Linked DNA regions of Homo sapiens: all the other regions are reported to be linked to region 2. Evidence: microRNA targets listed by miRTarBase, many of them from high-throughput screens and not tested one by one. Region 2 holds a microRNA gene; each other region holds the end of a gene's coding sequence.

Region 1 (7,990 bases), not on the chromosome of region 2:
AGACACCTGATGGGATGGATAGGACCTCATAAGTGGGCTTTCTTCCTTCTAATTCTCTCTGGCAAGAGAATTTGAAACAGCCCATAAATTTCTTTATTATTACAAATCTCTCTTAACATTTTGGGCTCAAAATTTATACTATTCAGTAAGCATTTTCTTATCCAAAACAGACTGGCATTAGGCACCCTACCATGGAACACTCAAATGATACTCTTTTCTATGAATGTGACTATGAACTGGAAATTATGCATGATATGTGGGGAGCACTGGACCCTCCCCAAGAATGAGTTTTGAGCTGAGCCCTGGTGGTGCCTGGAATAGGAGAAGTGATGATGCAAGAAGTGTTGTAAAATATGTAAGACAGAACTAAGGCCAAAGGGTACTCTCCTCTCACTGAGACATCATCGAGGTTTATAAATCACCTGTCACTGGGGCCACTAGGGACAGGGATACAGGAAATGAAGGGATCAATCATGACAACCCTGCAGGAAGAAATTCGAGGATGTTTTCCTCTATCCTCTTCTAAGAACAAGAATTCCTTTCAAGATTGGGGGTCCCTGTTCAGATACATATTTAATGAAGATACTCTCAATATGGGGGTGTATAGAGATGGGGTGCATATGGATGTGGAGGAGAGAGAAAGTGCTTTATGGCATTCCAGCCAAATTGACTGAAAGTGGCACACATGGTAGAGAGAACCGGTATAGAAACCAGGAAAGTGGTCTCTGCCTCCCTGGCACATGCCATGAGAATGATGGGCGCATAATGACTTCAGTCACCTCCTTTTACTGGTACATTAATGATAGAGTAATGCTTATAAAATATGTACATATAGCAACAACATACAGGCTTAGTTAGACTGTTCTCTCTCAGGATGGCTCTGCTTCGTGCTATGAGTTGGCTGGGCTTGGTTCCAGAATGTGGTTTTGATTTACATCTGGTTCATATACATCTGTTCTGGAAACCAGGCTTAAGGGGCAGTAGCTCCTGGGGCACACTCTCCTCACAGCGCTGGGTCACTGAAAAGCAAGGGCCAAGCCAAACTGTGCAAGCACATTTGAGGCCTCTGCTTGCATCACATTCATTAATATTCCATTGGCCAAAGTAGATTGCATGGTCAACATCAGTGGTCCAAGAAAGTATACTCTGTCCACAGGGGCAGAGGGAACAGAGTGGATAATTCAAACAATCATTTATATGAATGTTATAGCTTTGCAAATTACAAGGCAGTTGGAAGGCATTTCTCTTCCTCCTCATGAGTTTAAACTTGTATTTAAGAATTAATCTGTATCCTTTGTACACGTGCATGTATTTGTGTTTGTACTCACAGCATGTACATGGTTAATCCAATAGTTACCAGATGGACATTCAAAAGAAAGTAGAGACCATCTATGGAAATTGTTTTATGTACAACACAAACACACACAAACTATTTCTGTATATATATATACATATATATACACACACACATATGAAATTCAGCCTTTAAAAGGAGCTCTTGCCACTTGCAATAAATGAATGAACCTAGAGTATATTATGCTAAGAGAAATAAGCCAGACACAGAAAGAAAAATGCTGCATAATGTCACTTATATGTGGAATTTTTAAAAAGTCAAATAGATGGAAATGTAGAGTAGAATGGTTTTTGCAGTGGGGTGGGAGAGGTGGGGGGAAATGGGGAGATATAGGTCAAATAGTATAATGTTGTAGTTATGTAGGATAAAAGTCTAGAGATGTGATGTACAGCATGAGGACTATAGTTAATAAAAATGTATTACATACTGGAAATTTGCTTAAAGAGTTTTCTTAGCATTTAGGTGCTTTTACCACAAAAGAAAAAAGGTAACTGAGAGAATGGATATGTTAATTTGCTTGACTGTAATCATCTTTTCACTATGTATTTATATATCACAATATCACATTGTACACCTTAAATATGTACAATCAATCAATTAATCGATTAATCAATGAAATGAAAATAGAGATATATCTTCAACTAATCCTGATGGAAAGAAGTCCTTCTGGAATTTCTGAAAGATCATTCTAGTTTTACTGAATGATTATGACTTAGGAGAAATGAATGGATTCTGGGGAAAAACCAGTTCCCAAGGGGAGAAAGGTCAGATTCTGAGATGGTGGGTCGAAATTCCAGGAATGGAAGTTTGAAGCAAGAGAGAGAAGTGGGCCTGAAGTTCAGAAATCAAAGTTGGGAATTGGGGCCTGGCACAGTAGCTGATGCCTGTAATCCCAGCACTTTGGGAGGCTGGGGCAGGTGGATCACCTGAGCCCAAAAGTTTGAGACCAGCCTGGGCAACATGACGAAACCTGTCCCTACAAAAAACACAAAAATTAGCTGGGTGTGGCGGTGCACACCTGTAGTCCCAGCTACAAGGGAGGCTGAGGTGGGAAGATCGTTTGAGCCTGGGATGTGGAGGCTGCAGTGAGCCATGATCATGCCATTGCACTGTAGTCCGGGCAAAAGAGTGAGACTCTAGCAAAAGAAAAAAAAAAAGTTGGAACTTTGAGGGTTCTAATGAGAGAACCTCTGGGAAGGATTTCACACTTAGCTGCTTTACTCTAGCCTGTAAACTAAGTCCTATTTGGTGAAATGTTGGGAATCATTTCTCTTACATGTAGTAAGTCTGTTTAGTTTAGTTTAGATAGTTTGTTCATTTCTCAACATTTCAGTTAAGGCTCAGTCATACAGCTTTGCATGTTGTCAAGAAAGTGAAGGATGGGCTAGAGAGGAAAATAAAACATACCTTGTTCAGGTAGATTCTTAAATTGACTCCAAGAAAGCCCAATTTCCTAAAAAGGAATTAACTCCTTAATGTAAACTGTCAGCTTTTCTTTTGTATAGTCCATTTGGGAAACACAATAAAAGAGGGAGATCTTGTTTGTGGTGGAAACATGAGCTTTTTTTCTTTTGACTTAGTGAGAAACAATTTATTTTTCTGATTTATAAGCATATTTTACATATTCTGGTCAATACATCAAATGTATAATGTGGAAGTTCCCTTAAGAATACCAAGACCACACATGTTAAACTCAGCTACATGTTGTATTAGGCTATTAGACAAATGTCACTTTTAATATCACAACACATACATGTACTTTTTTTCATTGACAGAGGAACATGCCTTTCAAAAATATTTTATTGGGTGAAACTTTCTTATTCTCAGGAAAACTTTTGGTTCTTTAATATAATTTATTATGCTCTTTAAAATTCTGTTTGATAAAAGCATTGGTATATTATAAATACCTGTAAAGAAAATATAGTTTAAAATTTCAAGGGAAATAGTATATAAGTTTTCTCTTTGACATTTTCACAAAAATCCACACAGGCACTAAGAAAGACTGACAAAACTGTTTTATATCTGAATATTATACTCCAGGTTGGAAACATTCAATATGATTTTATTTAAATATTAAAGCTTCTTGAGAGTGAACCTTTGGCTACAACCCAATGAGTTGGCTGGGGTTTTAACCCAGAAAATATTTTGTTAGGAAGAATCAAAAGAAAGATTTATACATCTAGCACTAGATTGGGAATGGAAAAGTAATGAGTTTTCATTCTAACTCTTTATTGGCCTTTCCGGGCCAATCTAAGAATTCTCTGGTCCTTTTTAGTTTTAATACTTTTTGATATGCTCCAATATTGGAAATTCTATCTAACACTTCATATCAAACAATATATGAAACTTCCAAGGACAGAGTGATTCCGCAAGTCTTTTAGGAGAACATTCTCTAAGCATTACGGGCATTGCTCTGCAAACACCCTCTACACAAATTCAAATGGTAGAAGAGCAGGTGAAAATTTGTGTTACCAACCATACTTCAAGCCAAAGCAAATGACAGACTCTAGTGTTCTTTTCATGAACCAGTTCAATGCCATGAATTACCTTATGAAGTTCAAACTTCATGGAAAAATTGCAAACAGCAAACTCAGTGGGAGAAAGCCAGCATTGTAGGTGACTGGAGACTTTGTAAGCATATTGAGAGAAGGAAGCCAGAAGGTTAGTAATAAATGAATTAGTATTAGTGATCATCCAGGTGAGGTGAGATTACATAAGCAAACTCATAATTATTATTGTACAGATCCTGCCTAACAGAAGATGCGGGTAGTTTGTTTTTCCTAATGCATTTACACTTTGTACACATTCGCTTAGTGTAGGAGTGGGCAAAATCAAATGCCTATTGGATACTGCCCAGCAAGGAATCAAGTGCCTGCTCTAGGTAACATGGAGCAGGGTGCCATGGGGACTGAGAGTCATCTAATCAGGCAGCTGCTACTCAGCTCCAGCTAACTGTTGCCATGAGCAAAGATGGGTCCGAGAATGAGGTTTTATGTGAAACATCATATTTTCAATAACCACTCATATTTTAAAAACATTCTGCATACCAAACAAAATCTACCTGAGGGACAATTAAGGTCCATGGCCTGCCAGTTTCTGCTTCTGATTTGAAGCTTAGGAGCAATTTGGTGAGAATTTGGACACTATCAGTGATAGGATTGGAGAAGAACTTTTAGTATCAAGGAATAAACATTCAGTTTCAAATACTTAGAACACGCTGTTCTAATGAACACAGTTGGAAAAAAACAAAAACAAAACTTCTCTTGGTTTCTCCCTATTATGAGTATTTTTCTATTATTACATTAGGTCTCCATGTGATAAGTGGTTTCCTGTTACTGCTGAAAAAAATTGTGACTAGGAATTTGCCAAGTCCCAAGTGTAAGTTTTTTTTTTTCTGGGAAAGTGGTATATATCATTTCTCCCAACATTTATTTTGTGGCTGAGAAAGGAGACAGGTATAGAAAACTTTCAGAAGGAGAAACAGAGGAAAGACCAGGCATGCAGCACGAGTCATAACCACCTCTGGATCCACGGACGCCTCTGGCACCACAGACACAGTGCACCAGGCAAAGAATGTTCGAAAATTGCTCAAACCAGAGCATTCAGATTTCAAGATCTGTTTCTAGATCTAAATAATCCAGCTTTTGACCAACATGACCAGATTTTGACTACAGGAATGAGTGGCACTTTGGAATAGAAAGATCTAGGGAATGAGTCTTACAGTGAACTCCTTCATTAGGCCTACCAAATACTTTCTTGGCATCAAAATTTGAAGAACCACATGGACAAGACAGGGAACAAGCTACAGAAACAGTTTCTGACTCCTTCTCATTCTTTGCAGATTATGTTTTCAAATTAATTGATATCCCAGGTTTTGCCTTTTCTTTTGAGAATTGAAATGGGCTCTAATGCAGTGTTCTAATGTAGTGTAAGAGCTTTTTGTCAACTGTGACTCCAGAAAGAACAAAACACTTCACTTGTGCAGACAGGAAAGATGTGTTTTGAAATACCTATGATCAATTCTGGAAGTTGAACTTCCTGCTTGAGCTCATCCCCTTCACATGTACAGTTTAGGGAGAAAAAGAAAAGGTGCCACAAAGGATATTATAAGCATAAGAATTCATGACAAAACAACCACTTCAGACACAGGCAAAATCGCAGGGTAAGGAAGAAGCATGAATATTTCCAACTTGGGACCACACACTTATTTTAATTTTCCTCATTCAGAATGTCCACCAGAGCTTGAAGCAGCCGGTCGTCTCTGTGCTTGTAAGGTTTAGTGTTATAAAAAACATCAACATAGTCATTATACAGACTGTCTTCAGAGTCTTTAAGCTGGGAAGGTTTGTTCAGCTTTTCCAGGGCTTCGTAGAAGTTTTCATAAGGGATGTTGAGCTTTGCACTTGGGGACTTCTTTGGTGATTGCTTTGGCGGTGAGTTTTTACTGAAAGCACTTTGCAGGAGTCGCAGCATGGCCTGGGAAGGGGCTCCCTCCTCCAACTCATCCCTCCGGCCCCCTACGCTGCTGCTGCTGGGGCTTTTGGACACCAGGGTGTTCTCCTTAGGGTTCTCTTGTGTGGGCTGCTCCTAAAACATAGAATGCCATCCACAAAGGGAAGAAGGTTCATTATTTATGGCCAGGCAAGCTAGTTGCAACCCTACCACAGGAACGCTGCCTGCCGCTTGAGAGGCAATGAGGGGAGGGGAGAGAGTTCAAGACTGGGAGCCACATGGACTTGGGCTTCAACCCTCATTTGCCTACCCTCTGGGGTACCTTTAACAACCTTTTTAATCTCCCTCAACTTCACCTGTCAGGTGGAATAAGAGTACCTCCATTTGTGGTGGTTTTGAAGACTAGATGAGACTGTATAGGTAAGTACTCAGTACATGGTGGTTTTCTTTACTTGTCAGCCTGCTGTCATGGAATCCATTTTGGGAAGCAGAGGATATCAAAATATCTAACAAGTCATATAGAAGGCACCCACTGGTTGCGGTAGCATGGGTGTGCCTTCCTGGAGGCACTGGCTTTCAGAACTACCCTTTTAGCCACTGAGCTGTAAGAAGTGGTCAGGGGAGAGACTGAGGTGCTAGGCTGGGGAGGAGGGAGCTGGAGAGCTCAGAGAAGCCAACCTTGGCCAACTGCTGTGGAAGTGTTTCAATATTCCAACACTGACAAGGTTAACCTGCTTCCCAGACTGTGAAGAAAAGTACTCAGGACTCAGGTCCTGGAGGGAAGCTGCTTTGAAGAATATAAATGGAACTAGAATTCAAGCTGAGGCCTTCACAGTTCATGTGTAAGTTTCTTGAATATGTACTTTGCCTCTGTATCTTCCAAAACACCCAGCTCAGAGCTGGACCTATTCAGAGCAGGGCGTTCTGAAAATTCTGAAAACCTACCTATTACACCTGAGGCACTGTGCTAGATGCTGGGATACAGAGATAAAGAAAATGTGGGCTTTTCTCACCATCTGATAGAAGGAAGCCAGGAGCCATAGCAGGCTGAAACCCAGGAATGTGAACGACTTATTTTAGCTATCCTCTGAAATTTTTTGAGAAAAAGTGTGATCTATCGCTCCCCTTGGTGTTGCCAAGAAGTGTCAGTTAATGAATTAATAAAAAGAAGCCTACATGATTTGGCCATTTGAGCCTTGTTTTTCTTTCTGCAAAATGGATACACGAATGTCTATCCTTCCTAGGTTATAGGGATTATAGGTTAATGAGACAATGTGGAAAATGCTTAAAAACAAAGTACAGTACAAATGTTAGATATATGTGATTGGGCATAAAGATAACTTTTTTTTCCATTTGTTATCTGTCATAAGTGGAGAAAATTCATGTTAGGAAATTTAATACTTTTGAATTCATTAATTGTGATTTCTAAGTTCTGGATAAAATATTGAATGAAAAAAATACAGTTTTATCCTATGGAAAAGAATAGTTTACCACTATCACTTCTTATCCTCCCCATCCATGTTTGACTTATTTCCTGCTTGGAAGTTGGGTACAGCTTCACTGACTACATTGTCTACCCCAGTTCAAAAGAGAGCATGCCAAGAACAGAGCCACACAGACCTCCCCTGGATCCACCATCTTCTCCACCCCTCTTCTGTCATTCTGAACAGTGTTGTAGGACGTGTACACACGAGGCTGCTTCATATGCTCTGGCTGAGAAGAGGTCCCGTGCAAAATCAGCTTCCAGTTCACAATTCTTCCTTCATTTTGAATTCTTCCAGACTAACAAATAAGCATACCTACATTTAGTATGTGTTTTAGATAATATAAAACAAACTCATTCAAAATAGCTAAAAAGGATTTCATTGTTAAAATCTCATTTTAAGATTCTGTGCATTTCATGTGAAAGAAACCATTGGATCCACTCTTGCTATAAAAATTGACAATTTGTAGGTTCAACAGTTTAGAAACTGATTGCTTCATAATCAAACATTTAATTTAAAAATCAGAAATCTCTATGTAAGTCTTCTTTTCCATATTGGATGTGTTCTTGGAAAGCTGACTGTACCTTCTATAAATATATTTCCCAATTATCAACTTATAGAAACATTCCACTGGGAAAAAAGTCAGCCTCTATGGAGTATTATAAACAACCTCTAGCATTAATAAGCCCTTAAAAATTGT
Region 2 (7,262 bases):
GATGGGGTTTCACCATGTTGGTCAGGCTGGTCTCAAACTCCTGACCTTGTGATCTGCCTGTCTTGGCCTCCCAAAGTGCCGGGGTTACAGGAAAATAAAGAAAGCTCTTCTCAACCCCTCAAACTATTATTATTATTTTACAGCTGCTCATCTAGTGCTAACCAGAATCAGAAACATGTTTTGAAGAGTTTATCCATTTTTAAAAACAGATGCCATCAACCATAAAAGAAAAATATCTTCCTACATGGCTAATGAAACAAAAAAAGGAGAAATGGATGCCTTACAATCCAGGCTAATAGCCCCCTGCTTTCTAGCTAATGACAGTGAAATCAGGAAATGGGTTTGAAAATGCATGTAGAATGGGTGGAAATTGGGATGCAAAGAGATCTTTGTATGAAGGGATCTCTTTTATGGGCTTGATGGGTCTTTCTGATGGGAACAGTTGCAACTGAATTTGATTTAGAAATCATATGTGTGTGTGCTCTACAAATCTCCACAGAACATCCATTATTTTCATCAGAATAGTCAAAACCACACGTTTTTACACTGTTTGGTGGCAACTCTGGTGGGCTATTGAAGGGTGCTGGGGGGTCAATTCTCTTTTTATTTATGCTCCTTGGTGGGAGCTGAGGGCATCTTTCCCTCTCTCTTACCCCCACCCCAGCCTCCCCCAAGCAGAGAATGCCACATTTTCCTAGAGAGCAGCTTCAGGCCCAAGCTCTTTCCTTGGCTTTCTCAGCAGGACAGCGGCAGTGTACTACTCTCTCTTCCTCTCTTAGGCTCTCTCCCTGGTGGGGGCAGCAGTGTGGGTGTGGGGGTAGTGCTCCTAAAACTCCCACCCAGTTTTGAGCCCCCAAAGTTCCTGAGCCTTAATCACTGTGCTTGGAGACACCATGGGAGTGGGGACATCTGACTTCCTAGGCTTGGATTCCTTGAGAGTCTCATTTGCTTCCTCACACCCTGTCGCCTTCACACCAGGGCTGTTTTATTGTTTTATAACCTTCTTTGGAGCTTTAGTTGCCAAAGATTCTAATGAGGCTATTCTCCACTTTCTCACTTTACCAAACCCCAAGTCTTGCTGTGTTAAGCAGTTTGGTCACTTGCAAAGGCTTTCCTTTCAGATCTAAGCGAATTACAGAAACCTCTAGGCATGTGGCTACCTTCAACTTTGTCCAAGCCCATGCACAACAATATGGAGGGAGCCAAGTGTTAATTCCAACTGCTACTCCCACCCCCAAACCCACCCAGCCTCTCCCTAACCACCCTTTCTCCATTGAAACTTGAAAAAAATCTCAAATAACTTCCAACTTCTGTCATAAGCAAATAAGAAGTGGCTTTTGACCTTCCTCTTTATCACATCTAGAGCTAGAAAATTATTGAAATAAAGGGGTTGATGGTACTCACAGTGAATGCCGCCAAAGAATCATAAGACATGCCCACCAACTAGCCTTTTCCAAATAGCACTATCTCCCAACTTAAACAGCTTCTCCGAAAAGATGCTATTTGAAAAGCCTGGGGTATTGATATGAATATGACCTCCCTTGCATCCTGGATATTTGGAACTATTTAAATCTGAGGTAACCGTTGCAGCGAACCTTTATTTAGTGAATAAAAGTTTAAAGCCAAAGGTTATTTATGGTTCTGCAGAGATGGGACCTGAGTGGCTATTTACGAGCACGTGATTCCAATAAACTTTGTTTTATGGCTTGAGAGTTGACAAGCCAAAATATAATTCCCACCATAAATTAGGTTAAGAGCATACAAGTGCAGATGCTGGGTTCCTGGAGCAGCAATAGGAACGTGAGAGGCTCCAGCCAGCTCCAGGCTAAGAAGGAGACGGTTCTACTCCCAGCTCCCCTGCCCACTAGGAAAGAAAAACAGTAAGTCACTTATTACTTTTTCCACAACAACTTCAGAGGTGGGAGATTTCTCTGTTCCTGACTTTTCTGCCTAGGATGGGGATAAGTCTCATCGAAGTTAATTCTAATTTTAGCCTAAACCTAAATTAACAAATAGAATGAGCATCTCGATCTCCCATGCCCTCCCTTCCTGATAGGGACAGTTAGGAATTGAGGGCTCTCACCTCACAAGAGGGACTTACTGCCCCTCTCCTCCCCCTTAAGAGCATCTCCTTCAGAAGTGGAATAAAACAGTGGTATTCTGGGTGGGGAAAGAAAGAGAGGATGAGGGTGAAGCTGCTTTGTCCCTGAGATTTCTGATACTGCTTTCCTATAATAATATCAGGAAAGACTGAAAACTTAAAACTGGACACCAGCCTCTGGGAGGACCACTGCTTAGTAAGATTGTCTTCTGGGCTCTCCAGCAGCAATCCTGAAAAATTGATGTCATACCCATAGAGCTGGATAACAATCTAAAGCATTGCCATTCACCTTTAAACCCATTGATTTTCCTCCTCCTTGGTTATCATTTGGGTCCTCATTTCCCCCTGGAAATTGCTCTTTGTTTTGAATTGGAGTAGAAGTGGCAAGTCCCAGCCATGCCTGATTCTTCTTTGAAGAGGAGAAGACAGGTTTTGGGGGCACTGGTTGGGGCTGAGGAATTTGAAACCAAGCTGAAGCTGGAAAGGGAGGCTGAATTGCTCCCAGGGTGGGAGAGATAGGAAGCAGGGGTGAGGGGCAGATGGAGCGGCTACCCCCTCCCCAGTGGACCTGCACCCACCCGGCCCGATTGCGCAGAAGGAAACACACAAAGGCCCATTTTCTCCTCGCTTCTCGTTTTCCCACTGGGAAAACCCTGTTACAGGCGACCTGACTCGGGCCCAGTAACTAGTGAGGTTTTGCCCAAGGGTGCGTGGAGTGGGGGAGGCGATGGAGATCGAAATCTGTCATAATCCGTGGCTCTGCTCTTGAGGGACTGCGGTCTCCGGCTCTGCGGAGAACTTTGCGCAGTTCCCGGGGGCGGGCACCTGAAGCAGGGAGGTCTGGGTATTGGTGGGGTATCTGGGCCTTGTCATTTTTCTGTGTGTTATATGTGTCTGCTTTATTATCCTGTGGAATTTAAGTGATCCCCGTTTTCATTGCAACAGGTTCAGGACCATGAGAGAGCGCCGCTGTAAGTACCTTCCCGCTTCTTCCGAATCGCGAAGAGACGGTACTGATCGCGGGGAAGTGGTGGGCTAAGGGGCCAAGCCAGCGGAGTGGGCGGATAGAAGAAAGGCCCTGCCTCCCCCACCCCACCCCCACCCTCCACCCCCGGCCTCGCTCTGCGAGGTTAGCCCGCTTCGGGAGGTGGAGGCGCTAAATCGAGGTCCCGGAAAGCTTTTCTGGGGCCTGGTTCACAGACACCTGCCTGAGAGAACGGTCCGCGGGGTCTCGCCCTTGTCTCCTTGGGCCTCCCTAGACCTTCGCGGCCCTTCCCTGCTCTGCACAGGTGCAGCTCCGCCAAGGCGCTCACTTCTGTTAAGAGCTTGCTAATTAGCAGCCTGTCTTATTAGCGGCTTCAAACCAACGCAGTAAACACCAAGGCAATGCGGTCCCCTCCGCAGCCCAACCCTTCTTAACCTGGTCTAGCCTGGCCAACCTTCTGTTTTTAAAAAAATTCACTGAAAACAAAAACTCAATCCTCTGTGGCCGTGGGTGTGTTGAGTTGCCCGCTTCTGAGCTTTATGTGGACATTCCTTCCCCGCCCCTCCCCCGATCTGTTTGCAGCGGTGTGGGCCCTGGGCTTGGGACACTGGCTGAGCGAGGAGGGATACGGACCTTCTTTTCACCTCTGCTTCTCTGTAACTGCAGTTGGAGAATTTCCGCCCCAGAGGCGCTGGTGCTGCAAGGAGGCATAGGAGGGTGGAGTGGGGTGGATGCGGTGGGGTGGGGCCAGAGACTCGTGGGATCCTTGGCTTGGATGTTTGGATCTTTCTGAGTTGCCTGTGCCGCGAAAGACAGGTACATTTCTGATTAGGCCTGTGAAGCCTCCTGGAGGACCATCTCATTAAGACGATGGTATTGGAGGGAGAGTCACAGAAAGAACTGTGGCCCCTCCCTCACTGCAAAACGGAAGTGATTTTATTTTAATGGGAGTTGGAATATGTGAGGGCTGCAGGAACCAGTCTCCCTCCTTCTTGGTTGGAAAAGCTGGGGCTGGCCTCAGAGACAGGTTTTTTGGCCCCGCTGGGCTGGGCAGTCTAGTCGACCCTTTGTAGACTGTGCACACCCCTAGAAGAGCAACTACCCCTATACACCAGGCTGGCTCAAGTGAAAGGGGCTCTGGGCTCCAGTCTGGAAAATCTGGTGTCCTGGGGACCTCTGGTCTTGCTTCTCTCCTCCCCTGCACTGGCTCTGGGTGCTTATCTCTGCAGAAGCTTCTCGCTAGCAAACCCACATTCAGCGCCCTGTAGCTGAACACAGCACAAAAAGCCCTAGAGATCAAAAGCATTAGTATGGGCAGTTGAGCGGGAGGTGAATATTTAACGCTTTTGTTCATCAATAACTCGTTGGCTTTGACCTGTCTGAACAAGTCGAGCAATAAGGTGAAATGCAGGTCACAGCGTCTAACAAATATGAAAATGTGTATATTCACCCCGGTCTCCAGCCGGCTCAGCAGGCTCCCCCAATTTGTCTGGATAGAGCCTAGGCCCAGTGTCCCAGGAAGGTGGATACTTGGGAGTCTTTGGCATTCAGGGAAATTGGGGGGACTCTCCTGGGATAAACAGATTCTGCAGCCTCATAGCCCTTGTTAGAACTGGCGCCCCCAAAATCCCTACGAAACAGGTAAAGTGGTGGAAGCAAAGGATGGGGGGATGAGCAAAGTGCCAGGCTTGGAGGGGGAGTATCCCTGCCCCACCCCACCAGGCCCAGGCCCAGGCTTGAAACTAAATTTTGAATTATGTGGGAGGTAGGAAGGGCAATCAAGACAGTTAAAAAAAAATCTAACACCTTCAGCCTACAGTTAGGCACCCAAAAGCCCCACTCGAGCCAGGGCATCCCTGTGCCCCTGAAATCCATCGAGGCTCTGAGTGAGTCTGCGCTCTCCATGCCCTGAACTGAGGGACAAGCACTGCACAGTGCCGAGGCGCTGGGGCGGGTGAAATTTGTGAACTTTTGTACTCTTGTGTGCTGCTGTCGGCAAAGCAAAAATAATGAAAGTTTGTGATATGTTTGTAAATGATTTCGAATGACCCCTCGCCCTGCCCTTCACCATTAGCGCGCCGGCCTCAGCCCAAGGCGGCTCGGTGCCTGTGAGCAGCGCCTGCCTCGGGGTCTGCAGCAGCAGCGGAACGGAGAGGCCAGCCCGGATCAGGGCCCATGAAGGTAAATGCGCGACTTCTTGGAGAAGTAGCTTTGGCAGACAACCTGGCTTGGTCGGGCAGTAGGAAAAGGAGTAGACACAGGATATTCCCCTCTCGCTTCTTTTTCTTCTGCCGCTGAGGGCATTTGTTCCTTTCTGGAAAATACCACTTGGTAAGGAGGAGGGTTATTTGGATCCTGGTGGGGGAGGGTGGTTAATAAAGCCGCCATCCTTGGGATGGATTATTTTTCTTTCTTTCTTTCTTTTTTTCTTTCTTAAGAAGAATATTCTGGTTGTTCGCCTGCTTGGTAACCCTGACCCTGGCAGAAGAATGAGGGAACTCATTGCTTCAAATTGTCGCCAAGCCCATTAGGCTACCTGAACTGTCTCAGAAAGTGCGGGTGGCTGCGTCGAACGGTGGTGGCTCAGAGGAAGAGATTGGGGCCGGCAGCGACCTAGGTACCTCACTCTGGGTGGGACCCAGAGGTTGTAACGTTGTCTATATATACCCTGTAGAACCGAATTTGTGTGGTATCCGTATAGTCACAGATTCGATTCTAGGGGAATATATGGTCGATGCAAAAACTTCACGTTTCTTCGGAATAGCCAGAGACCAAAGTGCGACATGGAGACTAGAAGCAGCCGGCGCTGGTCAGCCGCCTCGTTCTGTTTTATTACCTTGGACTCCAGGAGGATCAGCTGCGCCTGGTGACATAGAGCAGCTTTTCCTCTCCAGAAGCTCCTCACCTTTAAACAGAGTATCCTCTGGGTGCTGAAAAGAAAGAAAGACAGAAAGAGAGAAAGAGAGAGAGAGAGAGAAAGAGAGAATGCAAGCCTAATTGGTTGCATGGATGCAGGGCCAAAGGGCTAGGTTTTGGGGTACTAGGGAGTGAGGTACAAGGCCAGCTTGCCCAGTCCCAGCTCTGCCCTCCAGGAACATGAGGTGCAAAGGTACCCAAATGGGGGCTTGCTTGTATTTGGGGCCTGTGGGAAGAAAGCAAGCTTCAAAGAAGCCCAGTGGGGAGCTCTAGGGTGCATTTTGACAAGGTGGAGGTGCCCTTGCCACCATCCCAGCCCACCCCCAGCTACATGGGCAAGGGCAGCGAGGGCCCCCTGCTATTTTGGCAGGGCCCAGCTTTGGCTGGGAACCCCCGGGCCTGGGCACTGGTAGAAAGCATGGCGGTTACTCATTGCCTAATTTGATTCAAGCTGGCCAGATTCTGGTAACTTTTGGGTGACCCTGATGAAGACAAAGCCAGGACGGCGGCCTTTGTATGGCAGAATCCCTGCTCCCGCCGGCTGCAGGCAGGGCGGGCAGGCAGGAACCCTCCTCGCCTGGGGCACTCTGCCCAACTCAGAGGCGAGTTCACCCACCCACCTTTCATTGCTCTGTACCCCAATAGGAGGATTCATTCTCCCTTGAGCTGTGCCTACTTGGTGTCGGGGGGCGGGGGTTGCATTCAGCTGGGGGTGAGTGGAAGGGCCACGGAAGGTTGGCAAAATCAGTGGCAGACAAAAGCTGGGATTACCTGAGGGGAATGGGGTGCTGGGGACTGGAACTACATTAATATCTGGCAGGGGCTCTCAAATGTGCCATAGCAAGCTACTTGATTACACGTATGTTATTTAGTTAAATTTGTGAAAATTATGAGATGCTCACCAACCCGGTGATAAACTTGCTCCCTCGCCATTGGCTGGCCTGGTCACATGGCTGCCCAACTTTATTCAGTTGACAGCAAGTAGGAGGGCCCTATGGAAGGAGAAAAAAAGACAACACGAGAAAAATTAGTATTTTCTACCTTCTGAAATTAATGGTCATGAGTTCGTATATGGTGAACTCCAAGTATGTGGACCCCAAGTTCCCTCCGTGCGAGGAGTATTTGCAGGGCGGCTACCTAGGCGAGCAGGGCGCCGACTACTACGGCGGCGGCGCGCAGGGCGCAGACTTCCAGCCCCCGGGGCTCTACCCACGGCCCGACTTCGGTGAGCAGCCTTTCGGAGGCAGCGGCCCCGGGCCT
Region 3 (7,990 bases), not on the chromosome of region 2:
AGAGTCTATATTTCTTTTTGTCTGATTGCAGAGGGAAATGTCTGATAGGAAATAAACTGAGATGTGAACAGTGTGCCGCCGTATCGGATTGTCAAGGGACTTCACGAGAGAACGCATGCGATGCATGAAGGCCTTTTTTCCTTTTTACTTCTTTGTATTTTCTGATATATTTTCCTGTTGTCCATGTATTATTACTTGAGTAATTTAAGAAAAAAGAAGTGGCTGGGCACTGTGGCTCACGCCTGTAATCCCAGCACTTTGGGAGGCCGAGGTGTGAGAATTTCTCGAGTTGAGGTGTTTGAGATCAGCCTGGGCAACATAGTGAGACCCCGTCTCTACAAAAAAAAATTTAAAAATTAGCCGGCCATGGTGGTGCATGCCTGTGGTCCCAGATACTCGGGAAATTGAGGTGGGAGGATCACTTGAGGCCAGGAGTTCCAGACCAGCCTGGGCAACATAGTGAGACTCCATCTCTACAAAAAGTAAAAAAAAAAATTTAGTCAGGCATGGTGGTACTTCCCTGTGGTCCCAGACTATTTGGGAGGCTGAGGTGGGAAGATCACATGAGCATGGGAGGTTGAGGTTGCCATGAGCCGTGATCACCACTGCACTCCAGCCTGGGCAACAAAGTGAGACCCTGTCTCAAAAAGTAGTTAAAATAATAGGGAAGAATGCAAGATGCTCCTGGAGCAGGATGGGTGATGAGTATCATGAATACAATAGCAGTAGGTGTCTCTCCAGATCCATCACAACCCGGCAGGTGAACCCTGCGCTCCATTCCAGGCTGCATCTGATCCTGGCTTGGGGCTTGCCACCAGGTCATCCTGGAACTTTGGGACCCAACTCTCCTGGCTAGGTGGTATTGGGCAAGTTCCTTGACCTCTCAGGGAGTCACTTTCCCCAACTGTCCGTGGGGTAATTATGAGATACACCTTACAGGGCTCTTATGAAGCTTGAGTTGACTTGCAGAGCGTTTACCATTGTGCTGGCACATGATAGACACAATATGTCCTAGCTACTGTTATTATCCAGCAAGTCACTTCACATTTCAGGGTGTCTGTACAATGCGGGATTCACACTAGATCAGCATGCCTTCAAGTACTGTCCTTGCACTCCCTGCCTCAGAATCATCTAGAAAACCAGTTAACTGCAGATTCCTAGGCCTTGCCCCAACCTATAGAATCATTTCCAAACATCTGCATTGTCAACAAGTCTTCCAGCTGAGTCACAAAAGGTTGAAGCCCATGGAATAGGGTACAGTTGCTAAGGTCCCTTTCCACTCAGACATTTTGAGATGCTGGGGGTTTTCTGATGATCTGCCCAGCCTCTTGGCCTCTGCTTCCAACTTGGTAATGGAAGCCAGGTCTTGACGCTGGAAGGTTCTACAGAAACCTAGCCATGGGCCATTCTTAGAAAATCATAGAGCTCTAAAATGGAAATTCTGTAGCCATTGCATGTCAGGACACTGAAGACCAGTGAGAAGAGGGCATTTGTCGCACAGTCAGCTAGCGATGGAGCCAAGAACACAGTCCTGGTGTCCTGACTGGGATAAAAGGTGTGTGCACACATGCGGGAACACACACGCACACACACACTGTTATTCTTGCTGTGGATGGCCCATGCTGTGTCTACAGCACAAGGTCAAGGTCTGGTCCGCTGTCAGATAATTTGCTGTCCAAGTTTGCACTCATGCATATGCAAGCCTTTTCACCTCTTCTGAGATTTTCTTTCTTTAGGATAAGGCTTTGGGGCCAGGGTAACAAGAACAGAAAAGGAAGAGACAGGAAATGTGAATGAAAAGGGCTTTGGGGTTTTGGTTTGTTTGTTTTTGGAGACAGAGCCTCATTCTGTTGCCCAGGCTGGGGCGCAGTGGCACTATCTCAGCTCACTGCAACCTCCGCCTCCTGGTTCAAGCGATTCTCCTGTCTCAGCCTCCTGAGTAGCTGGGATCACAGGCACCTGCCACCACACCCAGCTGATTTTTGTATTTTTAGTAGAGATGGGGTTTCACCATGTTGGCCAGGCTGGTCTTGAACTCTTGACATCTACCCACCTCAGCCTCCCAAAGTGCTGGAATTACAGGCATGAGCCATTGAGCCCAGCTGAGAGCTTTGGTTTTAATGCTATTCCCTAAAGTTTTATTCTACAAGAGCAAATTATTGTCCTCATCAAGCAGATTTATTCAAAAATGTGACTTGGCCTAGGGGTCTTGTTTTCTGAGCCTTTGGCAAATCCAGCACCTGGCATACAGGAGGCACCTCCATACTTATACTGATGAAGTAAGATAACTCTTAAGGTTTTTAGTCTGAGTAAAATCCTGGAGGAACAGGATTGCCATTTAATAAGGTGGCCATGAATTGAGAAGACAAGGAGCTTGGTCTTGAAAGCTCTTAGTCTGGGGTGTCTGTGAAGACGCTGGTAGGCAGCTCAGGACAGGAATCCAGAGTTTTGGGAGGAGTCATGGGCAGACAGTATTTAAGGTCATGAGATGTGAGTGTAAGAGTTAAATAAAGAGGAAAGAAACATGAAAAGCCACTCAACAGTCAAAGATAGGTTATTTTGGAAAATAAACCTGAGAGGGGCTTCTGGCCGACTTAGGTCAGAGGCCCTCTCTCTTACAAAATAAGAGTATTTAAGGGTTCAGGGTGGGAGAGCTTATCACAGGCTCGGAATGTTTCTGTGTCTCTTTGTCTTGCTTATCTGGGAGGGAGAGTTTTTGCATCTGTTCCCACACATCTTCCTGCAGCTGCAGGCATACCACCCGAGTTTGCTTTTAGCTTCCCTATCTCAGCATGCCTAAAGGGAAAGAAATGTGCTTATTAGGGCCCACTGTTTTACTGGGGCCCATTGTATGAGGGTGAAGTTTGGTGGTTACGAAGAGACTTTCCCTCCTCCCTCTGTGCTCAAGCTGTCTTATCTGTGTTTCATTGTCTGCTCTTCCTGGCTGCATTTCCTTGAAACGCATGAGGTTAGAAAGGGAGCTGGAACTTTTGGAGTTGTTTGTCCAAGATGACAGTGCTCCTGCTCTGTCATTGAGGAGATGGCCTAGGGACAGAGCCAAGGCCGGAGAGGAGGTCCAGGGCCTGTGTTCTTAAAGTTGGGGCACCCCAACTTTAAGATGTGTGTTGGGGTAGGGGAAGGAGTCCAAGACAGAGCCACCCGTGCATGAAGGGGAATCCTAGCAGGAGTGGTCCTCTTGGTTGTTGTTTCAAGGAGAAAAAAGGAATGCACTTGCTGCCGACGTGTCATATCCTGCCTCAGAGTCATTAGGAAGGGGACTGAGAATTCTCACTCGGTTTAGCAATGGGGAGGTCGTGGGCCACCTGGGCAAAAAGTATTTCAGTGGAGTCTGATGAACAAGGTTCAGGAGAAAAAAATCAATCAATCTAGGAGGTCCAGTATTTTGACTAAAAAGTATTCCAAAGACATTCATTTGACTATTTGTTACTGAGCATTTAGGGTCAGGCACTGTTCTGGGCACTGAGGATAAAGCAGTGAACAAAAGAGACACAAAGAGTTTATATCCTGGCCAGGCTCGGTGGCTCATGCCCGTAATCCTAGCACTTTGGGAGGCCTAAGCGGGAGGATTACTTGAGCTCAGGAGTTTGAGACCAGCCTGGGCAACATAGTGAGACTCTGTATCTATTTAAAAAAAAAAAAAGAAGAGGTTACATCGTAATAGGGGAAGATTATATAGTAGGTCAGATGGTGATAATAAGACTTAGTGAGAAAAAGCAGAGGTGGGAAATCAAGGGGTTGGGGGCAGGTTGGTTTTAGATGGGAAAGTGCAGAGTCCACGGGCACAGATGTGGGGAGGTAGGGAGGTGTTATGGGAGCTTGAGGAATGTTCTTTCCTATTTGTTTCTTTTTTCTTTTCCTTTTTTTTTTTTTTTTTTTTTGAGACAGCCTTGCTCGGTTGCCCAGGCTGGAGTGCAGAGGTGCGATCTCACTGCAACCTCCGCTTCCCAGGTTCAAGCGATTCTCGTGCCTCAGCCTCCTGAGTAGCTGGGACTACAGGCATGTGGCAGTATACCTAATTTTTGTATTTTTAGTAGAGATGAGGTTTCACCATGTTGGCCAGGCTGGTCTCGAACTCCTGACCTCAAGTGACCCACCTGCCTCAGCCTCCCAACGTGTTGAGATTACAGGTGTGAGCCACCACGCCTGGCCCCTATTTGCTTCTAGGTTCTGAGAGAAATAGGAAGCAAGGCCATAAGGAGGAGGACAGGCGAGCTGCAGAGGTCTGAGAAGATGTGACACAAGTGCCTAGGGCAGCACGTCGCCTGGATCAAGGAGAGGGGATTGTAGGATACGGCGGGGGCTCAGGAGAGCTGTAGAAACTAGAGAATGGCTGTTTCTCACCAGCCTGGCTGGGCTCCCTGTGTGTAGTGCTGGAGGTTCACCAGGTGGAATGGATAAAGGGGTTGGTGGGTGAACCATGGCCAAGGAGGGTCCACAGGGACAGCTAAGGGGATGGATGCACTGTAGGTGCTGGGAGGCTGAAGAGCTACACGAGTTGGGATGAGGGAGGAGCCAGAGGAGGCCATGAGAGGAGAGGACATGGGGAGGAAGGAGGAAGATCTGCACTCACGTGCGGCCATTGTGTTCCAAGTTCACTCCATGTGTGCAATGGGGACAACAGATGCTCGCTGAGCCAGCCTGGCAGAAGCGTAGTGCAGCTGATGGATGGGAAAACACGAAATGCACCTGTAATGGACTTCAGAGCTGATGCCCTACTCTGCAACTGTGCTGTTTTTCTATGAAAATCCTCTCCTCCTCACTGGTCTCTCGTTGAGTATCTTGTACTTCTGAGTTAGAGCTGCTCACGAGTATTCGAGGGTGCTCTCCACACAGTCCTCCGTGTAGGGTGCTCTCCAGTCTTCCGTGCAGGCAGTGCTATAAGCAGATCACCTGTGACGTGCCACATCCCCAGTCTCACCTTGATATTCCAGCGACAGAGCCACGGGCACATCTCCTTCCTGCAGAGGCTGTCAAGCCCGCTGGGAAGGGGAAGTAAATATTTAGAACGCCCTGTCAAGGGCCAGGCGCCGGGCAGGTATTTTCAAGTGAGTGCTCAGATCAGACAAGCCTTGTGAAAATACTGGAAGATGTTCCTCTCATACTGCAAAAAAGAAACTCCAGAGAAGATCCTGAGAGGGTGAACAGCTCACCCATGACCTTGCCAGTAAGTGGCAGCCAGGAGTCAGGCAGTTCTGACCACTGAGAAACCCGCTGTACCAGGAGGGAGACTGACCAATGAGGTTCTTATCCTTGCAGAGTGAGTCCTCGCTGCTATTTATTTTTATACCCCTATAGTCTTTAGATTAATAAAAATGCTAGAGGAAACATATAATATATAGAAAAGTTTCATTTATTCGAATTAAATTATGGTATGAGTTTCATATACAAATAAATTCTGTGTAAATAATACAAAATGCTACAAATTTCAATCTTGTAAAAATGCAAAAATACTTGTAATACTATACATATATAATTCCTTTCACATGACCAACATGTACAGTAGTTGACACGATGCACACGCGCTTCCCCCCCACAGCTGAGGCTGCTGAGACAGCATCAAGCCTTCGCTTCTGTGACGTCAGCGCTCCCTCCCGCGGCTGCCTCACGGTGAGCCAGCAGGCCCTCCCCCTCACACCCCCAGCTCAAGATGCTTCAGATTATGAGCCATCATCAGGAGGGAAGCTACCTATTCTCTGGCTAGTTAGAAGGCACTGTCATGGGGAAACTGGGTCCTCCTACAGCCTTAACACCAGCCTGCTAAACTGAGAACACGCCTCTACCGTGGAGAAGCGCGGTACATCACTGGTCTAACTCGTTTTCATTCTGCAGCGTCTTCATCGCTAGCCCCCAGAGAGTCATGCTGGAGAAAAACTGACCCTCTGAGTTCCTATAAGTGGTGGAAGATGCTCGACTGCCCAGGGGGTCACCGCCGTGGTTGTCCAAAGCAGCCAGAGAGGAACGGATCATGGCCATGCCATCGGCCTGCAGTGGTTCGCCACCGGCTGGGGTGTCCACATCCGAGTAAGCATAGGCCTGAGGCTGTGTCTGCTGCATCTGGGGCTTGGCAAGTTTACCAGGATCCAAACTCAGCTTCTCCTGGTCACTAACTCCATGAGGTTGGATCATGGACCGTAACTTACAATAGGAGCCGCCAGAGTGGCTATCAAATTCTGCCACAGAATTTTCCACTGGGTGGACAGGGAGTTTAACCGACACTGGCATCAGCGTCACAGACGTGTCTTGGGAGAAAGAGTCTGAGCTCTGAGATTTCTCGAGGTCGGAGGTCTCGATGGCTTGGCTGAGCTCCTCCAGCACATCTGGGCTCTCGTCACCAGCTTTGCAGTGCATCTTCTTGTGCCGCCGGAGCACCGCAGAGCGGGTAAAGCACTTGTTACAGATCTCACATGTGTACGGCTTCTCCCCAGTGTGAGTGCGGACATGCCTGCGGAGGTCACCTGATCCCCCAAAACATTTCCCTGGAAAAAGAAAAACAGTTATTTATTTACTTAAACAGGGTCTCACTATGTGGCCCAGGCTGGTCGTGAACTCCTAGCCTCAAACAATCCTTCTTCCTCAGCCTCTCAAGTAGCTGGGACGACAGGCGCATGACACCACGCCTGGCTAATATACATATACATTTTGTAGAGACAGGGTCTTGCTATGATGCCCAGGCTGGAAAAAGATGCTTTTACAGTGGCCATTCTGGAAGGATTCTCCCCTCCCCTCCCAAGACACTGAACAACCCTGATCTGAGGAGAGGGGGTCACCTCACAGCTTCTGCTCACTCTGGAAGGCTTTCCATTCCTGTGGGAGGTGCTTCTCCAGCTGCGGACCCCTCCAGCAGACAGCCTTTGGGTTTTGAGTATCTCAGTGTCAGTCCTTCGATTCTCACTGAGTCTCCCTGCACATGGGTGCCGTAGGCACCTGCCAAGCCCATGCTGAGAAACCACAGCTCTCCTCATCAGTTTCACTACATGTTCATAAATCTAACACAGCCAATCTATAATTTAGAAACATCTTTTCTAAAGGTGTTTGTGTATTCGGGTGTTTGTCTCGAAAAAAAGAAAAAAATCGCCCAGGCTGGAGTGAAGTGGCATTGTCTCGGCTCAGTGCAACCTCTGCCTCCGAGGTTCAGGTGGTTCTCCTGCCTCAGCCTCCTGAGTGGCTGGGATTACAGATGCCTGACACCACGCCAGGCTAATTTTTGTATTAATATTTTTAGTAGAAATGGCATTTCACCATGTTGGCCAGGCTGGTCTTGAACTCCTGACCTCAAGTGATCTGCCCACCTCAGCCTCCCAAAGTGCTGGGAGTGAGGCGCCCAGGCTGGAGTGAGGTGCAATCTCGGATCACAGCAACCTCCACCTCCTGGGTTCAAGCGATTCTCATGTCACAGCCTCCCGAGTAGCTGGGATTTACAAGGTGTGCCAACACACCAGGCTAATTTTTATATTTTTTGTAGAGATGGGGTTTTGCCATGTTGGCCTAGCTAGTCTTGAACTCCTGGCCTTAAGTGATCAGCTCATCTCAGCCTCCCAAAGTGCTGGGGTTACAGGCATGAGCCATGGCGCCTGGCCCTGTATTCAGCTTTTAACAAAATGTTATGCATTCCTGTCCAGGTTCTATTTTCTTTCTCTGTGAATATGGTAAAGGTAAGGGATCTAGCTCCACCACTGGAATAGGTAAGATGAGAAGGAACTCAGCACATAACCTTACAAAGGCCACAGACTAGCCAAGAATGAGCTGCACAACTCACATGGACAAATATTTAGAACTTTTCACTTTACATCTGAATTCTCAGCTATCTAGCTCCAGTCAAGCAATGGCTAGGCTATTTTTTTTTTAAAGCCTTTGAATAATCAAACTGGATGTGAGCTTACATGCCTAAACTTTGGGCACATTTTCCACATAAAAAATACTGTAGGCCAGGTGAGGTGGCTCACACCTGTAGTTCCAGCACTTTGGGAGT
Region 4 (7,990 bases), not on the chromosome of region 2:
TGGGCCACTGCATTCCAGCCTGGGCAATGAAGCTAGACTCCATCTCTTAAAAAAAAAAAAATCCATGAGCATCTCCTCTCCTCCAGCCATGCCCTCCACACACACAGGCACGTGGACAGACACCGAGTGCAGCCCTCCTACCTGGGGCCTGCCTCTGCCAGCACAGTCCCCTCCTGTATGGACCCTGGCCTACCCTCCAGACACTACATGGCAGCCACTGTCCTTTTCGAGCACCCAAACGAAGATCTGCCTGTCCCGAGCTTCCACGTGTTCCCCAGGGATCTTGGCCAATATTATAAGGCATGATGATCATGGTTGACTTCCACAGCCCCCTTTCCTGTGGCCCAGCCTCCAGCCCTTGGGCAGGTCACCTGGAGCATCTTGGTGGAGTCGCAGCGCCCACTTCCCAGGGCATTGTGAGGGTTCGCGCTGAAAGCACGTGCAGCCTGTCATGGGGGTTATCAGGAAAAGTCATGGAGGAGGAAGGGAGCCTGGGGAAGACCCCCATTGTTCCTGAGGGAAGGGGGAGCTGGTTCTTGGGGGCTGATGATCTGGGGATCCAGAGAGCCTGCAAGGTCTGCAGAGGTGGGTGAGGGAGCCCCAGCACCCTAGAGGCCTGCCCCTGCCCTGGCCGGGCTGTGCCAGAGCCCCTCCCTGCTCACCCCTGAACTGACGAGCACCAGCAAGTTGGTCTTTGGGTCCCCTGGCAGGTCCCCCCCTGGGTGGCCCCGGGTTCGTGGTGGCTAAGGGCCCCTGAGCATCTCTCCCCTGGCCTTCTAGGGACAGAAGATGAGCCTGTCGGTCCTGGAGGGTATGGGGTTCCGTGTGGGCCAGGCTCTAGGCGAGAGGTGAGCGCGGCCCCTCCTGCTCTCCCCCAGCCTGGCTGGCAGGGCTGGGCAGGCCCCGGGCGGGGAGGGTTGCATTGCTCCATGCAGGAGTCGGGCCTGTCTTCCTCCCTCTTCCTGGCCTGGCCCCACGGCCTCAGCTTGGTACTGCCCCACCAGGCTGCCCCGGGAGACGCTGGCCTTCAGGGAGGAGCTGGATGTCCTCAAGTTCTTGTGCAAAGACCTGTGGGTGGCGGTGTTCCAGAAGCAGATGGACAGCCTGCGCACCAATCACCAGGTGGGAGCACCCCGGCCTGCCCGTCCAGCTTCCTCCTGAGGGCAAGACCAAGAGAGTGGGAGGGGAATCCCCCGGCGCCAGAGCAGCGGCTGCCGGGACCCGCCCAGAGCTTTCCCACAGGCGGCCGCAGCTCTTGCTCTGTCTGATCCTCTAAGGGAAGCCAGGAGGCTGCGCTGGGGCATAGGGGGTGTTTCCGGAACTTCTCCAGCCTACCAGGAGTGAGCCATGCATGGGCAGAAAGCCCCTGGTGGCTGCCTGCCCTACCCCCAGTGTGATGCTGCTTGTCCCAAGCTGGTCTAGTCCCCCAGTGACACCCAGGCTGTACCTGCCCTTCTGCATCTTCCTGGGCCGGGTCCCCAGCTTTTCTGCACAACCCTGGGAGGCGAGGGCAGGACCCACACTCCCCAGGGCACAGGCACCCACTCCAAGTTTGGAAGCCCTGGGCCCTACCAGAGCACTGGAGGCCAAGGCTGTGACTCCAGTGGTTCTCAGGAAGGGGGCCTTCCCAACCTCAGCCCAATCTAAGACCTGGGTTCCTGCTTACCCTCCCTGCGCTTCAAATGTACAGGCCCCGACCCCACCCACCAGCCTCTCCTCTCCCCCAGGGGACCTACGTCCTGCAAGACAACAGCTTCCCCCTCCTCCTCCCGATGGCCTCTGGCCTGCAGTATCTGGAGGAAGCACCCAAGGTATGGGGGGAGCTGGGGCCTTGTCCACACCTCCCTTCCTCCTGTTTACCCAGCCCCATCCCACATCAGGCCTTTCCCCAGGCCTAAGGGGTGCCCCAGACCTCGGGTGCTGGCCTCCCCTCTCTTCCCATGCTGGTCTGTGTTCCCTCCTCAGTTCCTGGCCTTCACCTGCGGCCTCCTGCGCGGCGCCCTCTATACCCTGGGCATTGAGAGCGTGGTCACCGCCTCCGTGGCAGCCCTGCCCGTCTGTGAGTCATGGGGGGTGGGGGGATTCTTCTCATCCCTTGAGTTGCTGGGGGCTTCAGAGTTCCAGCCCCACTCCTGTGTGTGTGCCTGGGAGGCAGGCCCAGTTTTAAGTCACCTGCTCAGCCACACGGCTGGTGCAGGCCCATCTGTGCCCCTGGCTCCGTGACGTCGCCAGCCCTGCAGAGAGAACTGTCTGGCGGTTTTGAACATCGTTTCCCAGCATGGGAGCCGAGGTGGACGCAATAGAAGTTATCCTCACTGATCCTTCGATGGGGGCGACGGCAGGCTCCAGGGAACTTGCAGCCTGCCTGACTGGGTGTCCTCTGTCAGACAAGCTGGAGCCCCATTCCTGCCTGGGGACAGCCTGCCCCACCACCTCCCCCACCTTCAGTTATTTTGCCTCTGCCGGTTCCCCAGGCCCACTCATGGGGGCCCCCGGGGCCCCCGTGGGGTAGGACCGAGCAATGCATACCACAGAAGCCCGTGCCGGGCGCTTCCCTGGGGCCACATCCGTGGCCCTCATGCTCCTGGTTACTCACACAGCTCAGGGATGCGGCCCCGTGGGCGGGAGGAAACAGCCCAACCTAGCCACTGGGGTGTCAGTGCAGGACGGGGGTGAGCGCCTAAGAGCCGTCCAGGTGCCCTCTGCCTCCCCCATCCCATCCTCAAGCCTAAGCCAGGCCTTCTCTTCCAGGTAAGTTCCAGGTGGTGATTCCGAAATCCTAAGCCTGCCTCGCACCTGCTGAGCCGCACTGCTGCCCCTGGCCTCACCGGCCTCAGGAGACGGTGGGGCCGCTGCATTTCGGGGTGGTCTTGGGAATCCCAGGCCCTAGGGGTCACATTTGCTCAGGAAGTGGGTATCAAATTGAGGTGGGGGTGTCAGAGGAGGCAAAGGGGTCCCAGCTGCGGTCAGGACTGTGGTGGGATTCCCGCCTCGGCAGCGTCACTGCCCAGTAGCTGCTCAATAAAGGCTGTGTGTGTGGAATCTGACTCAGAGCAGTGGGGGAGGATCTGTGGACCGACTGTCACAGGTCCTGCAGGGGAGTGGGTACCCTCTCTGGCTCCCATGCCCCTCAGACCTTCCCTCCCCTGCCACGTCCCCCTCCACTCCCTCCCTCCCCGTGCTCCTGGCAGAGGGATGCTGGCCTCCGGCATGGGCGGCCTTACTGGCACCTCTGCCAAGTCAACAAGTCTGGGGCTGCCCTCTGCCCGGCGATGTGCACAGAACGGAGCGTCTTCCTGGGGAGCAGGGCTGGGAGTGCCCGGAGTGTAGGCCAGGTCGGGCTGGGGCTGCCAGGGCTGGGGATGCATGGGGTAGGGGGAGGCCAGACACCCCCATGGACACACGCGGCCCCTACGCACTCCTGCTGCCCGTCCCTGGGCAGAGTGGCCCTTATGCTGCCCCCTCCCACCCCGCTCGCATCTGTAGCATCTGGGGACTCCTGGGCTTCGCCGCCCGCTGCCTGACATGGGTAAGTGCCCCAGGCTCAGAGCTGCCCACCAAGGCTGGGGGTGAACCCCAAATGGGATGAGAAAGGGGCCCCTTGCTAAAGAACCTCCCCTGTAGAGTGGGGTCCAGTCACCCCGTCAGGCCCTGCCTGGGTCACCCCTTCCTATTCCACCTGGCTGAGTGTAGCTGTGTCCTGTGTCTGCCTCTGCAGTGCTGCCCGCCTGGCCCACTCCCCAAACGCCTGCTCCCCCTAGTGTCCAGCAGCCTCCTGGCCACTGTGCTCCCAGCCCGGGGCAATCTCGTCCTGCGGAGACGGCTCATTTACATTGGGCCACGCTTCATGATCGGGCCGGGGGTGTGGGGGGTTGGCACGGAGGCCCACTGCAGATGCCCACGCTCAGATGCCAGCCCCGCCTCCCTGGTGGGCCAGGGAGGAACCTTCCCAGAGCAACCGGCTTGAAGGGTGGGGGAGGAGACGGGGTCCCAGGTCGCAGGAAGGGCCCTGGCTCTGGCCGTAGGGAGCAGTGTTTGGTCACCTGGGCAGAACTCAGGGCTGGGTGGGTTCCCTTTATCTTGTCCTGGGCACTGTTCTGGGGCTGCCTCCCCCATCCCCATCGGAGCACCCCGTCTGTCAGGGAAGCAACTGTTGACCCCGTTACGCCAGCAGCCACAGGGAGCCGGGGCCCCAGAGAGCCGAGGGGCCTTCAGGGCATCTCCTGCCCAGCCTTACCCCGGCCCTCACCCCTCAGAGGGCATCTGTGGGGAGGCAGTCACTGAGTGCTGGCCCCGAGGGCAGGAGACAGAGCCTTGGCGAGCCTGGGAGTAGCAACCACTGACTGCTTCCAAATCCCCGCCCTGCCTCTGTGTGCCCTGGGGCCGAGGACTTCACTTCTCTGGGCCTCAGTGTCCTCATCTGTGAAGCGGGCATCACACCTGGCCCCCTGGGTGGTGGAGAGGAAGACGGGGCTATGGTGTAGCAAGCCTTGATGTGTGTGCTGTTGCCCTTGTCCTATGGACATCCATTTAGAACAGCGCCAGGTAAATGGGTCAGCACAGCCCCGGGTCAGGTGCGCCAGGCCCTGAGCTGAGGGGACTCCCACCCAGTGCCTCCCTCGCGACAGCCACGAGAGGCAGGTGCCCACTCAGCAATGAGGAAGCCATGGCTCGGAGAGTGAAGTCACCTGCCCAAGGTCACATACCTGGGCCACGGAGGAGCTGGCATCCCAGCTCCCTGTCCCCCCCACACCAGCAGAAGTGCCTGGGCCTGTGGCTGCCTTAAGGAGATTGAGGCAGTGCTGCGGGATGCATCTCCGTTCCTTACCAGGGATGGGGACACAAGACTGAGTCCAGTCGGAGTCCCAGTCCTCGAGAGCAGAGAGCACTGGGACAGGCAGGCGCTGGGGAAGGGGCGGGGACAGGCAGGCAAACCGGTCAGGCGGGCACTGGGCTGAGGCCTCCATCTGGATGGGCCTGCGCTGACAGTCCGGGCTGGTGTGGCAGCTGCTCGTGGGGCAGGCAGCTGGGGCCGTGAGGCCACCGTCAGGTACGAGTGGGACTGGGACTGGGGGTGGGGAGTGGTGGGCAGGCTACCAACTCTCAGCACCCCAGTTTCCTCTGCCCCTCAGCCTTTCCCTATCCCTGTCCCCCACACAGCATCCTTCCCTGTCCTGCTTTCGGCTCTTCACATTGGAAACGCGGTACACCCATCTTGCCCGAGTTTGCTGAGCCTCTCCCCAAATTGGACCACCGCGATTTCATTGCTCCCTCACAATTCCCCCTCCACCGTATCATTCAATGCCCACAGGTACCCAGCTCTGATTTTCACTCACCCTGCTTCTCATCTGCTCTCCAGCTCACCTCACTAGCTCCATGTCCTTCCAAAGCGTGCCAGCCTCCCACAGCGCCCACACCTTAATGACCCCTTGGTCACTCAGCCACCACACCGGACCCCCTATTTCCCCAGCCCATGTCTGCTCAGCACTCCCCAGTGTCCTAGCCTCTTGGAAACTCCCAGGAGCTTCCCAACACCCAGCCTCAAATTAACCCCTAGCCAACCCCAGCGGTTCTCCGTTCCCTCCTCTGGCCATCCCTCCTTATCCTGCCCCTCACTGTACCCTGAAGGCCACCTCTACCCCCTTCTCCCAAGTGACCTAGGAACCCAGCATCTGGGACTTGGCCTTTCCCCTGTCCAAGCTGTCGGGCAGGGCAGGGACCCTGACCTCAGCTCTCTGCTGTTCGTGCCCCAGAGGCTACGCCAAGCCTGTGTGCTCCCTCCTGCCTCAGGAGCAGGCCCCCAGCACCCAGCTGCCCGGCTGCCATGCACAAACATTACAAAGTCCACTTCGCCAAGGATGCCCAGAGCCCCAACGGGCACTACTTCTGGGACCCAGAGTTGGGGCACCGAAAAGGTACGGGTTCAGTTTGGGGGCGGGTGATGGCCGACAGAGGCCTGTGAGGAAGCCAGAGTGAATGGAGGAACAGAAGGGGAGCTGTCATCCCCAGGAGAGAAAAGCCACTTGCACTCCACCCAGAGGCATCTGTGTAGCAGCAGGGCCTGGGACCCAGGACCCGGACCACAGGGCCTGCGGGCCCAAAGATAGGAGCCTGGGCTGGAGTTGGAAGCAGGGGCCGCCTGGCCTGCCCTGCCCCGTTTCCAAACCCTGAGGCCTGTGTGGATGGCCTCCAGCCTGGAGGGGAGCAGTGTGCTGGGAGTGAGGGGTAGGAGAGGGAGCCCCCCCACTGAACATGTCTGGATGAGGCTGGGCCCAGTTTCTGGTGGTGACCACAGGTGATCTTGTTCAGGGTGGGGAGGGGGCAGTGCCCTCCCACTGGGGCTGATTCAGCCTCCTCAGGGCTAGGGCGAGGGCTGGAGCTTCCCAGGTCACCACCCTTCCTGCCACCCTGGCCCGAGCTGGGGACAAGGTCCACCCCCCACCCAAATCCCTGGCCTACCCCTCTCCACGCCACCACCCATCACTCCGGCCTCCCTGGGCCAGCCAGGGCCAGCTCCCAATGGATCTTCTCAGTTTCCCTGACCCCTGCACTGGCGGCACCCCCCAGGGATCCAGGAATCTGCTGTGGCAGGCACCAGCCTCCATTGAAGCCCCAACCTCAGGCGTCCTCTCTCTGCCCCCAGCTGAAGTCCAAGCCTGCACCTTCCCTGCTCCCCCGCCATGGGACAGCACAGACCCTGGGTCCCTCCCCTGCCCATACCTCCCCCGCACATAATCTTACTTTTTGAGGGGTTTCTGGGGCTCCCAAGAATACTCTGGCCCCCAGGTTCTACCTGAAGACTTGGTCTGGCTTGTGCCGGTGCCCCCGGGGGTCGGGGACACAGGCCCAGTCACCCCCACTTCCTTCCTTCCAGGATGCTGTCATCAGTGGCGCCAGGACTCAGCGGCCCTCCGAGCCCATGGGCCCTGTCGGCCTTCCCCCCAATCACACTGGCAGCTGGCCTACCACAGCCACCAAGTGGGTGGCAGTGGCTGGCGCCGGGGCCTCCTGCCCTCCGTCCTGCAGCAGCAGCGGCAGCCCCAGTCCCAGCCCTCACCTCCCAGCCCCCTGCGGCAGCGGCTCTGCCCCATTCACGAAGCCCAGAAGGGGCTGCCTGCAACCTCCACTGTCCCCAAGGAACCTGCCAGCGCCCCTCAGGCGCCCACCTTACCCACCACGGCACCAGCCATGGCCAGGAGTGGCCCAGCTCTACCCTCCGCGGCTGGCGTCCTCCTGAAGCCCAGCGAGCCCACTGATGCCCGGCCCCTGCCCGCCCCAGCGGCCTGTGGCTCCTTCACTGCCTACAGCTCCGGTGCTCACCCTGGCCTTCTTGGGGGCCCTGTCCCCACTCCTGCCGCCTCACTTCCCACCTGCTCTCCTTGCTCCCTGCCTAGCATCTTGCACCTGCCCTCTTCATCCACACCCTGTTCCCTATCTAGGAGGGGTGCGTCCCTGGCCATGGGGCTCAGGCTGGCTGCCTCAGCTTTGCCTGTTGGGGTCCAAGGCTTCCAGGCCAGGCCTGCCCCGTGCCTCCATCCTGCGCCAGGCAGTGAAGGCCTCCCTCTCCTTCCCCCTTTCCCTCTGCCGACACCCTGGCTCTGCTCTGGTCTCTTCTCAGCTCCCTCCTCTGGCTCAGCAGGGTACAGGGTACATGGGGCAGGGATGGTGAGCCCTGGGTTGTTGGCTGGCTCTGGCGTTGGGGAAGACAGAGCTAGGGAGTAGCCTGGGGAACGGAGAGCAAAGGTCAGCAATGGGAAGACCCACTTGCTTGCTCTCTCCCTCCCTCATTCACTCCATGACTAGGTATCCAGCACCCTGAGCGTGCCAGACCCTGTTCTAGGGGCACAGTGGGGAGTGGGATCAACAGACATCTCTTGTCTTCATGGGGCTCACATTGCATTGCAGCCGGGGGCAGGTACAGGAAACATGGAAATTTAAAAGTGGCTGGGAGGCCAGGTGCAGTGGCTCATGCCTGTAATCCCAGCACTTT

What was found. The annotated mature microRNA hsa-miR-10b-3p reads ACAGAUUCGAUUCUAGGGGAAU and lies in region 2 at 5,790-5,811, shown strand. An mRNA with a match to its seed (bases 2 to 7 or 8) in the 3' UTR can be bound and repressed. Matches are read on the target gene's strand: a 7mer-m8 pairs with bases 2 to 8, a 7mer-A1 pairs with bases 2 to 7 and ends in A, and an 8mer does both.
Region 1: the mRNA of PCSK1 is a reported target of hsa-miR-10b-3p. Seed matches in the 3' UTR shown: 7mer-A1 at 4,957-4,963.
Region 3: miRTarBase lists ZBTB49 as a target of hsa-miR-10b-3p. Seed matches in the 3' UTR shown: 7mer-A1 at 5,674-5,680.
Region 4: the mRNA of TRAPPC6A is a reported target of hsa-miR-10b-3p. The part of its 3' UTR that is shown has no 7-base or 8-base seed match.

The regions. Positions count from the first base shown.
Region 1 is chr5:96,387,438-96,395,427 of GRCh38, forward strand. It overlaps PCSK1 (proprotein convertase subtilisin/kexin type 1), which reads right to left. Exons shown (of 14, transcript NM_000439.5): 13 at 7,427-7,588; 14 at 2,896-5,941. The coding sequence ends at 5,564. The region is part of intron 4 of LOC101929710 (a long non-coding RNA gene); the gene reads left to right. It also overlaps a transcript of CAST not described here. Among named protein-coding and RNA genes, the nearest start is that of PCSK1, 42 kb to the right of the region's middle.
Region 2 is chr2:176,144,579-176,151,840 of GRCh38, forward strand. It overlaps MIR10B (microRNA 10b), which reads left to right and starts at 5,725; the gene lies at 5,725-5,834. HOXD4 (homeobox D4) reads left to right here and starts at 6,972. Exons shown (of 2, transcript NM_014621.3): 1 at 6,972-7,262. The coding sequence starts at 7,056. RefSeq lists enhancers at 3,619-4,162, 6,691-7,262.
Region 3 is chr4:4,319,147-4,327,136 of GRCh38, reverse strand. It overlaps ZBTB49 (zinc finger and BTB domain containing 49), which reads right to left. Exons shown (of 8, transcript NM_145291.4): 8 at 5,354-6,497. The coding sequence ends at 5,821. Among named protein-coding and RNA genes, the nearest start is that of ZBTB49, 33 kb to the right of the region's middle.
Region 4 is chr19:45,157,985-45,165,974 of GRCh38, reverse strand. TRAPPC6A (trafficking protein particle complex subunit 6A) reads left to right here. Exons shown (of 6, transcript NM_001270891.2): 2 at 781-848; 3 at 1,005-1,122; 4 at 1,728-1,811; 5 at 1,966-2,059; 6 at 2,752-3,042. The coding sequence ends at 2,783. It overlaps NKPD1 (NTPase KAP family P-loop domain containing 1), which reads left to right and starts at 4,993. Exons shown (of 5, transcript NM_198478.4): 1 at 4,993-5,050; 2 at 5,754-5,915; 3 at 6,875-7,312. The coding sequence starts at 5,825. RefSeq lists enhancers at 1,876-2,055, 4,711-5,343.